Homo sapiens: one gene and its partners. The protein of the gene in region 1 purifies or fractionates together with the protein of each later gene. This does not show direct contact. Each region holds a gene or a part of one and is shown in the gene's direction. Other genes may lie near its edges. The genes, in order: GIMAP2, LDAF1 and ARFIP1.

Region 1 (4,352 bases):
CTGAAAGTCCAACCAAACTTTAGAACTCCCTGTAGAGTCTATATTTGTTGTGACTACATCTCAGTCTCACTTCTCCCTGCCTAATCCTGGGTTCTTCCCTTCTCCCTCTAGCACATTTCCTGAGAAGATTCCCTAATAAACTTCCTTCATCCATTTTATCTTCATCTCAACAGTCTGTATTCCTAGGAACCCAAACCTTTGCACATGTACATGTACATATCACTTATGTTAGGAAACGCAGTGATGTAATTTGCAATATTAGTAGGTCAAAAGGAAAAAGACATGGAATTATATCAGTCAACGTCAAAATAAAATTTTCTAAATTTATACCACAGATAAAAGACTTTAATGAAATAGGACTAAGCAAAGTATAGCCACACTGATTTTAAAATAAACTAATTAATTTCCAATAACCAACATCAATATTAATGATAAGATATTAGGTGCCCTACAGGTAAATAAATAATAAAAGCACATTAACTCACTTTTGAAAAGGTAGCAAGCAATTGTAATTATACAAGAGAAAGCAACATAAGATATTTTTGGAAACAAGGAGGGAAAATTATCACTATTTGCAACTGAGTCTATGATAAACCTGGAAACTCCAAGACAATCAAAAGGAAATGTTTTAAATGCTAGGATGTGGAGAAATAAGAACACTTTTACACTGTTGGTGGGACCGTAAACTAGTTCAACCATTGTGGAAGTCAGTGTGGCGATTCCTCAGGCATCTTGAACTAGAAATACCATTTGACCCAGCCAACACTCCAGAGTATTACTATAGACATTTCCTAGACAATTTCTCCCCACAGGGAGGTTCTCTGAAATTACAGAGCTGGACAGGGAAGAAAGGCCCAGAATCCTAGAAGCCATGAATGAGTTATGTAAAAATGTTTTGATGGTTAATGATCCTTACAATCAGACTCAGACAAAAATGTCCCCTCTCAGGTTCCCCTTTCTGTGCCCTTCTTCCCCTGGGCAGTGCCTATCAGAGGCTCCTCTTCTCTCCCAGTGGCATCTGCTTTAGAACAATCCCTGCTGCTGGTGTCAATGAGGTTTAAGCCCTTCTCAGGGGGCCATTTGCATCTAGACAAACTTCTAACTGTTGGGACATATCCCAGCTGGGAAGGACTGAAATCCACCAACTTCCTTGGCATTCATGCCTTTCTTTCCAGTCCAGATGAAATCATTAAAACACTCTTTTTTCACTTTTGAGAAGAAGAGACAGTTGGCCCACATGACAGCAAATAACTACTGATTAACTTTCCATTTAAACTGTTTATTTTGCATAATGGCATGAAAGAGAATTTCAAACACAGGCACGTGGTGGCGTTCATTAGCAGTCAGGAAGCTCAGGAAGATTCAAGAGAGGAAGAAGACCGACTGGAGTCTCGGTTTTACTTTCTTTTTCTCTTGGAGCTGAGCTATAAGACAACAGGACTGAACAGGGAGCCAACTGTTTCTTTGAACAGTAAATCAGGTAAGCCCAGATTTACGAAAAGTTCTGCAGTGTTGATTTCTAGGTCCCAAGCCATGCACAAACATTTTCATTTTTCTTAGAACAAATTTGTCCTATTTTAAGAGAAGCAATTTAGAGTGACTGCCTTTTCCTTAAGTGGAGCCAGTTTACAGGAAACCGATGTAATTTACTTTACACATTACTGGCAAAGAAAGAATTTCCATAGTATAAAGTCAATAAAAAGTGCTAACTGGGAAGAATTTGGGCATTAATCGGTGGCTTTCAGTTTTCTGTGCTTGTACGCTTGGTCTATGCCTGCCAGATTTAAGCAAGAGAAACTAGCTGATGAAAACGTACCGATATTTCTCACTCCATAGTAGTTCCTACATTGCAAGGGCTTCATAACCAGGGGCTGTTGGGGAATGAGAAAAATTCAAGCCATTAATGGATCAAGTGAAGTGTATTTCCAGCTTAAAGGACTGCACGGTTTCCCAGAGTCATAATCTTCATTCACTGAGTCTCTCAGCAAAGACTCAACATGAGGGAGGAGGTTTGGAGAGAGTAGAGGAGGGAAGGAGGCAAGGTGGGAAAAGAAAGAGAGGGAAAGGGAGGACTGAGCCTAAGGTGTAAGGGAAGGCACACCTACAGAGAAAGCTGACAGAAGCGAAGAGTGTGCAGGCAAAACAAAAACAGAAGGGAGCCGGGCTGATCTGTGAGAGGACGGGAGGAAGAAAGCGAGAGAGAGCTGGGCATGAGGCTTACAAATGAAACCCACTTCTCAGCCCCTCAGCAAGTGATTCCAGTTCTCTGTAAAGTAGGAAGTCATTCCTTTCCCACCCACCTTGTCCCTTATGAGTAGACAAATGAAACATGGTTGTTTAGAAATATAAGGATCTTGGCCTAGTGTGATGGCTCACGCTTTTAATTCCAGAACTTTGGGAGGCCGAGGCTGGTGGATCATTTGAGGTCAGGAGTTTGAGACCAGCCTGGCCAACATGGTGAAACCCTGTCTCTACTAAAACTACAAAAATTAGATGGGCATGGTGGTGCACACCCATAATCCCAGCTACTCGGGAGGCTGAGGCAGGAGAATCACTTGAACCCAGGATGTGGAGGTTGCAGTGAGCCGAGATCGCACCACTGCACTCCAGCCTGGGTGACAGAGTGAAACTGTGTCTCAAAAAAAAAAAAAAAAAAAAGAAAGAAAGAAAAAGAAAAGAAAAGAAATATAAGAATTTTTCATGATTTAGAACTGAAAAATAAGTTTCTTGTCTCTCTGTTTCTCAGGAACACCAATGGACCAAAATGAACACAGTCACTGGGGTAAGAAGGTGACTTCACGTGTGTGTGTGTGTGTGTGTGTGTGTGTGTGTGTGTGTGTGTGTGTGTGTTTGGCTCTTCTGATGATGTTGGGGCAAAATAAACAAGGGTGAAGGATCTTATTCTAACTCCCACAGCTACCACCACCAGCAGCTGAAAATTGTGGGGTTTTGTTTTCTTTGTTTGTTTGTTTGTTTGTTTGTTTTGAGACAGTGTCTCTCTCTGTCACCCAGGCCGGAGTGCAGTGGCGCAATCTCGGCTCACTGCAACCTCCACCTCCCAGGTTCAAGTGATTCTCCTGCCTCAGCCTCCCAAGTAGCTGGGACTAAAGGCACACACCACCACGCCCAGCTAATTTTTTTTTGTATTTTTAGTAGAGACGGGGTTTCACCATATTGGTCAGGCTGGTCTCAAACTCCTGACCTTGTGATCCACCCGCCTCAGCCTCCCAAAGTGCTGGAATTACAGGCATGAACCACCAAGTCTGGCTCGAAAATTGTTAAAATACTCACCAGGATCCAAAATATGCATCCAGGCTTTTCCCTTATGCACAAATCTTTCAGATCTCTTTGAAATACTCCTTCTCCTACCATTCAGTCTTCTCTTCCTTCTCTCACATTTCCATAGGTTCTTTGTGTGTGTGTGTGTGTGTCTCTCTCTCTGTCTTTCTGTCTGTCTCTATCATTCCCTTCTCTTCCCTTGTCCTTTCTCTCTCTCTCCTCTTCTTGCACCTGTTTCTGCTATCTGTATGGTATGGGCGTCTCTCTCTCTGTATCTTGACCTCCCCTTTCCCACTCCCTCCTCCTCACTCTCTGCCCCTCGACAGCCCTGTCTTCAGTCTCTTACATCAAGAAGAGCCCAGATCTTCCTCCTTACCAAGTTGCCTTCACACTCAACCCTCACCTGTGAGAAATAGGAGGTCTCTGGCTTCATTGTGTATGGAACTTGTTTATTGATCAAGCTGAACTCTGAGATCCAAATGAGAAACAACTTTTTTTTTCCTCCCAGCCACTGACTCTTATTATGCAATCTTGATTTCCTTTTGTTTTGGTTGCGGGGTGGAGGGAATGGAGTCTGGCTCTGTGGCCCAGGCTGGAGTGCATTGGTGCAATCTCAGCTCACTGCAACCTCTGCCTCTCAGGTTCAAGTGATTCTCCTGCCTCAGCCTCCTGAGTAGCTGGGATTACAGGCATGTGTCATCATGCCTGGCTAATTTTTATATTTTTAGTAGAGACAGGGTTTCACCATGTTGGCCAGGCTGATCTCAAATTCCTGACCTCAAGTGATCTGCCCACCTCAGCCTCCCAAAGTGCTGGGATTACAGGCGTGAGCCACCACGCCCGGCCACAATCTTGATTTATTGATGCCATCTCAGGCAGTTGCCTTTCTGATTAATAGAGACTAGAAGAATAGTCTATTAAAGTCACTATGACACATGTATCAGGTGTTGTACTGTTCGGTGCCGTCTAACATCAAACTTACATTCAATTTGAGTTTCTCCTTCCTCTACCTCAGCCTCAGCCTGAACTCTGGTACCTTCCAAAAGTCCTCCTCTCCCTTCCAGCTCTGCCCC
Region 2 (2,875 bases), on another chromosome or scaffold:
ATATAGTCTCTACTGCAGTTAGTCAACTCTGTTGCCGTAGCATGAAGGCAGCACAGACCAGGAAGTAAATGCATGGGCATGGCTGTGTTCCAGTAAAACTTTATTTACAAAGACAGGCAGCTTGCTGGATTTGGCCAACCATTGCTCTATAAGAACTGATATCCTGAGTTTTGTTTTTCTACAAAACAGCCCTTGAACTCCTTACCAAAAGTTTATCCTGTTATTATTCCTATGTTGAAAAATAAAGGGTGAAGTGGGTATAATATAAAATTGCTCAAGGATGGCTCTTATAGGATTGCTTAATTGAATCAACCCTGGAGTCATAATCACCTTTTCAAAAATCGCTTTGATCACTCTTAGTCTTTTGTTTGTTCATTTGTATTTTACTTATAAAATGGGGTCTTGCTGTGTTGCCCAGGCCATTCTCAAACTCCTGGCTTCAAGCAATCCTCCCCCGTTGGCCTCTCAATGAACTGGAATTATAGGCGTAAGGCACTAACTCACTCCCAGTCTTAAAAGATGTAAAAGGAGAAATATTGGCCTATTTTGCATATTGAGGGTGATGCTTCTGAAATAAAATTCCTCCCTGCCTCTGAACGCTGCTGTAACAGGGTGAGTTCTTAAAGATTATACCACAGGAAGTAGCAGAATCTGACTCCCTACTTATCAATGAAGAAATTGAAAAACAAATCCAGGATTTGTACTTGATCTCCTTATCTTCCCCTATTGCTGCCAACCAATTGTTTCCACGTGGGCAGAGGTTCTTAAGCTTTTTGTTCTCAAGTCCCATTTTACCTTCTTAAAAATTATTGAGGCATCTGAAGAGATGTTATTTATGTGGTTAATTGTATTAATAGCACTTTGGGAGGCCAAGGAGGGAAGATCACTTGAGGCCAGGGGTTTAAGACCAACCTAGGCAACATGGCAAGACCACATCTCTACAAAAAATACAAAAATTAGCCAACTGTGGTGGTGCGTGCCTGTAGTCCCAGCTACTCAGGAGGCTGAGATGGGAGGATCATTTGGGCCCAGGAGTTCAAGGCTGCAGTGAGCTGTGATCACACCATTGCACTCCAGCCTGGGCAACAGAGCAAGACCCTGTCTCAAAAAACAAATGAAATGAGCTGAAATATAAAATAAATAACTAACATGACATAAAACTATATACAATAAAATAAATTAAAATAAACATAACATAAATTACATTAAATCAAATTAAATATTAGCTGGTGCATGCTTGTGGTCCCAGCTACTCAAGAGGCTGAGGAGGGAGGATGGCCTGAGCCTGGGAGGTTGGGGGTGCAGTGAGCTATGATTGTACCACTGCACTCCAGCCTGGGTGACAGAGCTAGACTCTGTCTGGAAAAAAAAAAAAAAAGAATATTAATAATTATTTCTTTTTAAAAAATTTTCTTCCTCATTGTTTCTTGTTCTGAAATAATTATTCTATGAGAAATCATAGCATAAATTTTAAAAATATCTATTCATTTAAAAGGAACAATATTACCTGTTGATATAAATAACAAATTTTAATGAAAAGTAACTATATTTTCCAAAACAAAATGAAATTTGTGAGTGGTATTATTTTACATTTTACAGATCTCTTTCATATCTGCCTTAACAGTTGTCAGCCGGCTTCTCGTTTGTGTGGCTGCATTCATTCTGTTGTGCTATGTTGTCCTGTTTGGAGTATTTGAAGAAGACCTAGCATCACTAACATGCGGTTGGGAGAGGGAGGCAAAGCTTTTTTAAACGATTGTGGATATTCTATGATAGTCCACCAAAACTCCGTAAGTGATAGTTTCTTAAAGGTTAGCTGAAATGTGAAATTTTTCTACTCTATTTTATTGAAATCTTCAGGTCTGTGTCACACTTTAAATTGATCTTTATCATGCATGATTTTCTAACTTTACCCATTGGTCAATGGGAGAATATCAATTCATTGAGTCATGCAGATCTTCCAAATATATTTTGAAAAATTGCACTGTTCCCTTGTGAGAGAATGTGAGTGAAAAAGGCATATAATAGGTCATGTTATTGTGAACATGGTTTTCATCTGAGAACCCTTGCATTAGCGAATTCTTTTTTTTTTTTTTTTTTTTGAGACGAGTCTCACTCTCACCCAGGCTGGAGTGCAGTGGCTTGATCTTGGTTCACACAACCTCTCCCTTCTGGGTTCAAGCAGTTCTTCTGTCTCAGCCTCCCGAGTAGCTGGGATTATAGGTGTGCACCACCATGCATGGCTAATTTTTGTGTTTTTAGTAGAGGTGGGGTTTCACCATGTTGGCCAGGCTGGTCTTGAACTCCTGAGCTCAAGTGATCCACCCACCTCAGCCTCCCAAGATGCTGGGATTATAGGTGTAAGCCACTGTACCCAGCCTGCATTAGTGAATTCTTTATAACTCAAAAAAAGATAACTCCCTCATTAAATGATCGAAAGCATGGAATGGGGGGAAGAGGAGCTATATAATTTATTTCATGATTTAATGGAATTTTGGCCCTAAAACATAAAAGATAATACAGCTTAAATTTTTAAAAAAGAAAAGAAAAAGGAAACAAAACTGTAAGTTTCCCTTACATATGAAACCCAACTAAACAATATTTAGATCAAATACACTGACCTGCCTCCTATGTAGATCAGCTAGCCTCTGAGGGGCAAAACCACACTGCTTGGTTATGGAGACTGCAAGACCTTCCAGGGCCTGCAGCTCAGGAGAAGTAGGGGCCCTGGGCAGCTGTGTTTATTTGCAGAGCCACCAAACTCACTACCCCATATCATAATCTTCCAAACCAGCCTGAGCATAACTAGCTTCCTTACATCTTTACTAAGAAAAGGAAAGGCTTCTTTCTTAGTTTTTTGTTATCAGGGAGGAAT
Region 3 (3,654 bases), on another chromosome or scaffold:
CCTCTCCCTGATAGATCCAATGATTGAACAAGTTTTTAAAGTCTTACTTTCTACATGACTCTTGAATTTTTCTATTTCTTCCTGTTTCCACTACTGCCACTTCATCTTGCCTGAAACTTTTACAATAGCCTCCATTCTTATCTGTCCTCTCTAATTCATTACCCATCTTGAAGGCACAGTGATTTATTTTGAAACACACATTGGATTATCACTCTCCTTCTTCCTCCCCCAGTGCTTTTATGGCTTTCCATTGCTTCTAGGATCAAAATAAAACTGCTTAACAGCCTTTAGCTCTCCAGACTCATCTTGTACCATGTTCTGCATAACTCTCCAGTTCAACCATGCTGGCCTTCTTTAGTCCTTTGTATGCACCTTGCTCCCTGCCATTTTTGCAAGGCTTTTGTACATGCTTTTCTCTCTGTCTGGACCATTCTTTCTTTACTTTCATTTCATTTCACTTGTTAGTTCCTAGTCATCCTTCACACCTCAGCTGAAGTTTTGCATCCTTAGAGAATATGCTCACTTCCCACATTAAGGTAATAGCATCATACATTTCCCGCAGTTTGCAATTTACATTTATTCATGTGACTGTAAGATTTTCTTTCTGTTCAGTGGCCTATAAACTTCATGAAGGTAAGGTCCATATCTTGTTTTCTTTTTTGGCTCATTTTTGAATCCCTAGAACCTAGCTCAGTACCTGACACCTAAATTTGACTCATTAAATTTCCAAGTTAATGGTATTAAGGATTTCAGTTCATCGAGTTTTGTAATACAAGAATTTGAATATGAATTTTTATAAAAATAGTGTTAAAATGGTAGTACAGTTTGAACATTCCTAATCCAAAAACTTGAAATCCAAAATGCTGCAAAATTCAAAACTTTTTTGAGCCCAACATGATGCTACAAGTACATAATTCTACACCCAACTTTATGTGATGAATCAAAGTCAGAATGCAGGTGTACAACAGTTTCTCCAAGAGAAAAAAGACCTGCCTAGCCCCCTTCAGCTGCCATATATCTTTTCCTCACACAGCCAGATGCACCTACGCAAGCATGCCCGCAAAGGGCAATACAATGCCATGTGTATGTGTAAGAAATGATTGGTTATACGTAGCATATAAATTCAGAGACGGGAATGATAGTGATGTCAAACAACCACAGACTGTCCACATGAGTGGCTGAGATAGTGACACCTTTGCTTTTGGATGGTACAGTGTATACAAACTTTGTTTCATGCAAAAAATTATTAAAAGTATTATATAAAATTACCTTCAAGCTATGTGTATAAGGTGTATATGAAATGTAAATGAATTTTGTGTTTACACTTGGGTCCCTTCCTGAAGATACCTCATTATGCATATGGAAATATTCCAAATGCCAAAAAAATCTGAAATCCAAAACATTTCTAGTCTCAAACATTTTGGAAAAGGGATAATCAACCTGTAATTAAATTTTCAGTTTGACTATTTCTTTCAAGTGTATGGAAATAAATTATTAGGCCGGGCACAGTGGCTCACGCCTGTAATCCCAGCACTTTGGGTGGCCGAGGTGGGTGGATCACTTGAGGTTGGGAGTTCAAGACCAGCCTGGCCAACATGGTGAAACCCTGTCTCTACTAAAAAATATACATATACAGATTAGCTGGGCGTGGTGACCTGCACCTGTAATTCCAGCTACTTGGGAGGTTGAGGTGGAAGATCGTTTGAACCTGGGAGGCAGAGGTTGCAGTGAGCCGAGATCGTGCCTCTGCACTCCAGCCTGGGCGACAGCAAGACTCCGTCTCAAAACAAAAAATGTGTTATTAGTAGCTATATAAAATATAGCAATATAGCACAGTATTCTTACACTATTTTGTAATAGACCCTTTTATTTTTGGATGGTTTTAGTTTTACAGAATTACTGTGAAGATAGAATAGAGCTTCCCATACCCACTTTCCCCTATTATAAGATAGGCTGTGCACAGTGGCTCATGCCAGTAATCCTAGCACTTTGGGAGGTCAAGGCAGGTGGATTGCTTCAGCTCAGGAGTTCAAGACCAGCCTGGGCAACATGGTGAAACCCCATCTCTACCAAAAATACAAAAAATTAGCTGGGCATGGTGGTGCCCATCTGTGATCTCAGCTACTTGGGAGGCTGAGGTGGGAGGATTACTTGAGCCCAGGAGGCGGAGGTTGCAGTGAGCAGAGATTATGCCACGGTACTCCATCCTGGATGACAGAGCGAGACTCCATCTCAAAAAAACAAAAACAAAAACATACTACATTAGCATAGTACATTTGTCACAATTAACCAATATTGGCACGTAATTATTAAAGTCCATATTTTATTCAGATTACCTCACTTTTCCCCAATGTCTTTTTTTTTTTTTTTTTTTTCTGTTCAAGGATCCCATCTAGGATAGCATATTACCTTTAGTGGTCATGTATCCTTTCATTTTGACAGTTTCTCAGATTTCCTTGTTTTTGATGACAAGTTGATAGTTTTGAAGATTACTGCCTGGTCAGGTATTTTGTAGACTGTCCCTCAGTTGGGACTTGTCTGCTGTTTTTCTCATTAGACTGGGTGATATGTTTCTAGGAGGAAGATCACAGAAGTAAAGTGCCATTCCCATCACATCATATCAAGAATACAGACTTTTTTTTTTTTTTTTTTTTTTTTTTTTGAGGTAGAGTCTCACTCTGTTGCCCAGGCTGGAGTGCAGTAACGCAATCTCGGCTCACTGCAACCTCCACCTCCTGGGTTCAAGCGATTTTCCTGTCTCAGCCTCCCAAGTAGCTGGGTCTACAGGTACATGCCACCATGCCCGGCTAATTTTTGTATTTTTAGTAGAGAGAGGTTTCACCATGTTGGCCAGGCTGGTCTTGAACTCCTGACCTCAGGTGATCCACACACCTCAGCCTCCCAAAGTGTTGGGATTACAGGCGTGAGCCACTGTACCTGGCCAAGAATACAAACTATTAATATGACAGTACCATTGATATTAACCTTGACTACTTGGCTTGAGATAATGTTCATCAGTTTTGTCCACTGTAAAGTTACTCTGTTTTCCCCCTCCTTTTGTATATTGTACTTTTTAGAAGAAAGTCTCTCTGTGAAGCACACAATTGGGAATTGGGGAATTATGCTTTACCTCTTTAAGGGTGAAGTGTCTACATAAATTTTTGAAAAATCTTCTATAAGAGTTTTTTGTCTATTCTCCCCTTTCAGTCGTTTATTTATATCAGTCTGACTCATGGATATTTATTTTATACTTAAGGGTAAATCCAGTAGTACTTTATTACTTTGTTGCTCAAATTGTTTCAGCTGTGGCCACTGGGAGCTCTTTTAGTTGGTTCCTGTATTCCTTTGACATACTCCTGTCATTGTGAGACTTTTGTTCTTGTTTTGTTTGTTTGTTTGTTTTTGAGCACTTTTAACTTTCTGGTATTACAAAATGCTCTAGGCTCACCTTGTGTATTACCTACCACAGGCCTAGAATCAGCCTTTTCTCCAAGGAGCACTGATTCCTTCTATTGGAGAATAGTATTAGAAACCAATATCTGGGCACTATGTTTGCTCATTGCTGTTGGAATGTCATTGCTTCTAGGCCCTCCCAGTGGACAGAGTAAGGAAATATATGTGTGTACACTAACTCATGTATATACACATATCTAT

The links.
Region 2: the proteins of GIMAP2 (region 1) and LDAF1 purify together in Homo sapiens (affinity purification with mass spectrometry; one large-scale study listed by BioGRID and IntAct). This does not show direct contact.
Region 3: the proteins of GIMAP2 (region 1) and ARFIP1 purify together in Homo sapiens (affinity purification with mass spectrometry; one large-scale study listed by BioGRID and IntAct). This does not show direct contact.

The regions. Positions count from the first base shown.
Region 1 is NC_000007.14:150,684,306-150,688,657, forward strand, and holds the start of GIMAP2 (GTPase IMAP family member 2), read left to right. Parts: upstream 1-1,400; 5' UTR 1,401-1,480; intron 1,481-1,816; exon of another isoform or gene 1,817-2,402; intron 2,403-2,746; 5' UTR 2,747-2,754; coding exon 2,755-2,782; intron 2,783-3,291; exon of another isoform or gene 3,292-3,408; intron 3,409-4,352. UniProt on the Homo sapiens protein: The heterodimer formed by GIMAP2 and GIMAP7 has GTPase activity. In contrast, GIMAP2 has no GTPase activity by itself.
Region 2 is NC_000016.10:21,175,538-21,178,412, forward strand, and holds part of LDAF1 (lipid droplet assembly factor 1), read left to right. Parts: intron 1-1,599; coding exon of another isoform or gene 1,600-1,621; exon of another isoform or gene 1,622-1,624; coding exon of another isoform or gene 1,625-1,697; exon of another isoform or gene 1,698-2,875. UniProt on the Homo sapiens protein: Plays an important role in the formation of lipid droplets (LD) which are storage organelles at the center of lipid and energy homeostasis. In association with BSCL2/seipin, defines the sites of LD formation in the endoplasmic reticulum.
Region 3 is NC_000004.12:152,786,447-152,790,100, forward strand, and holds part of ARFIP1 (arfaptin-1), read left to right. Parts: intron 1-3,654. UniProt on the Homo sapiens protein: Plays a role in controlling biogenesis of secretory granules at the trans-Golgi network. Mechanistically, binds ARF-GTP at the neck of a growing secretory granule precursor and forms a protective scaffold.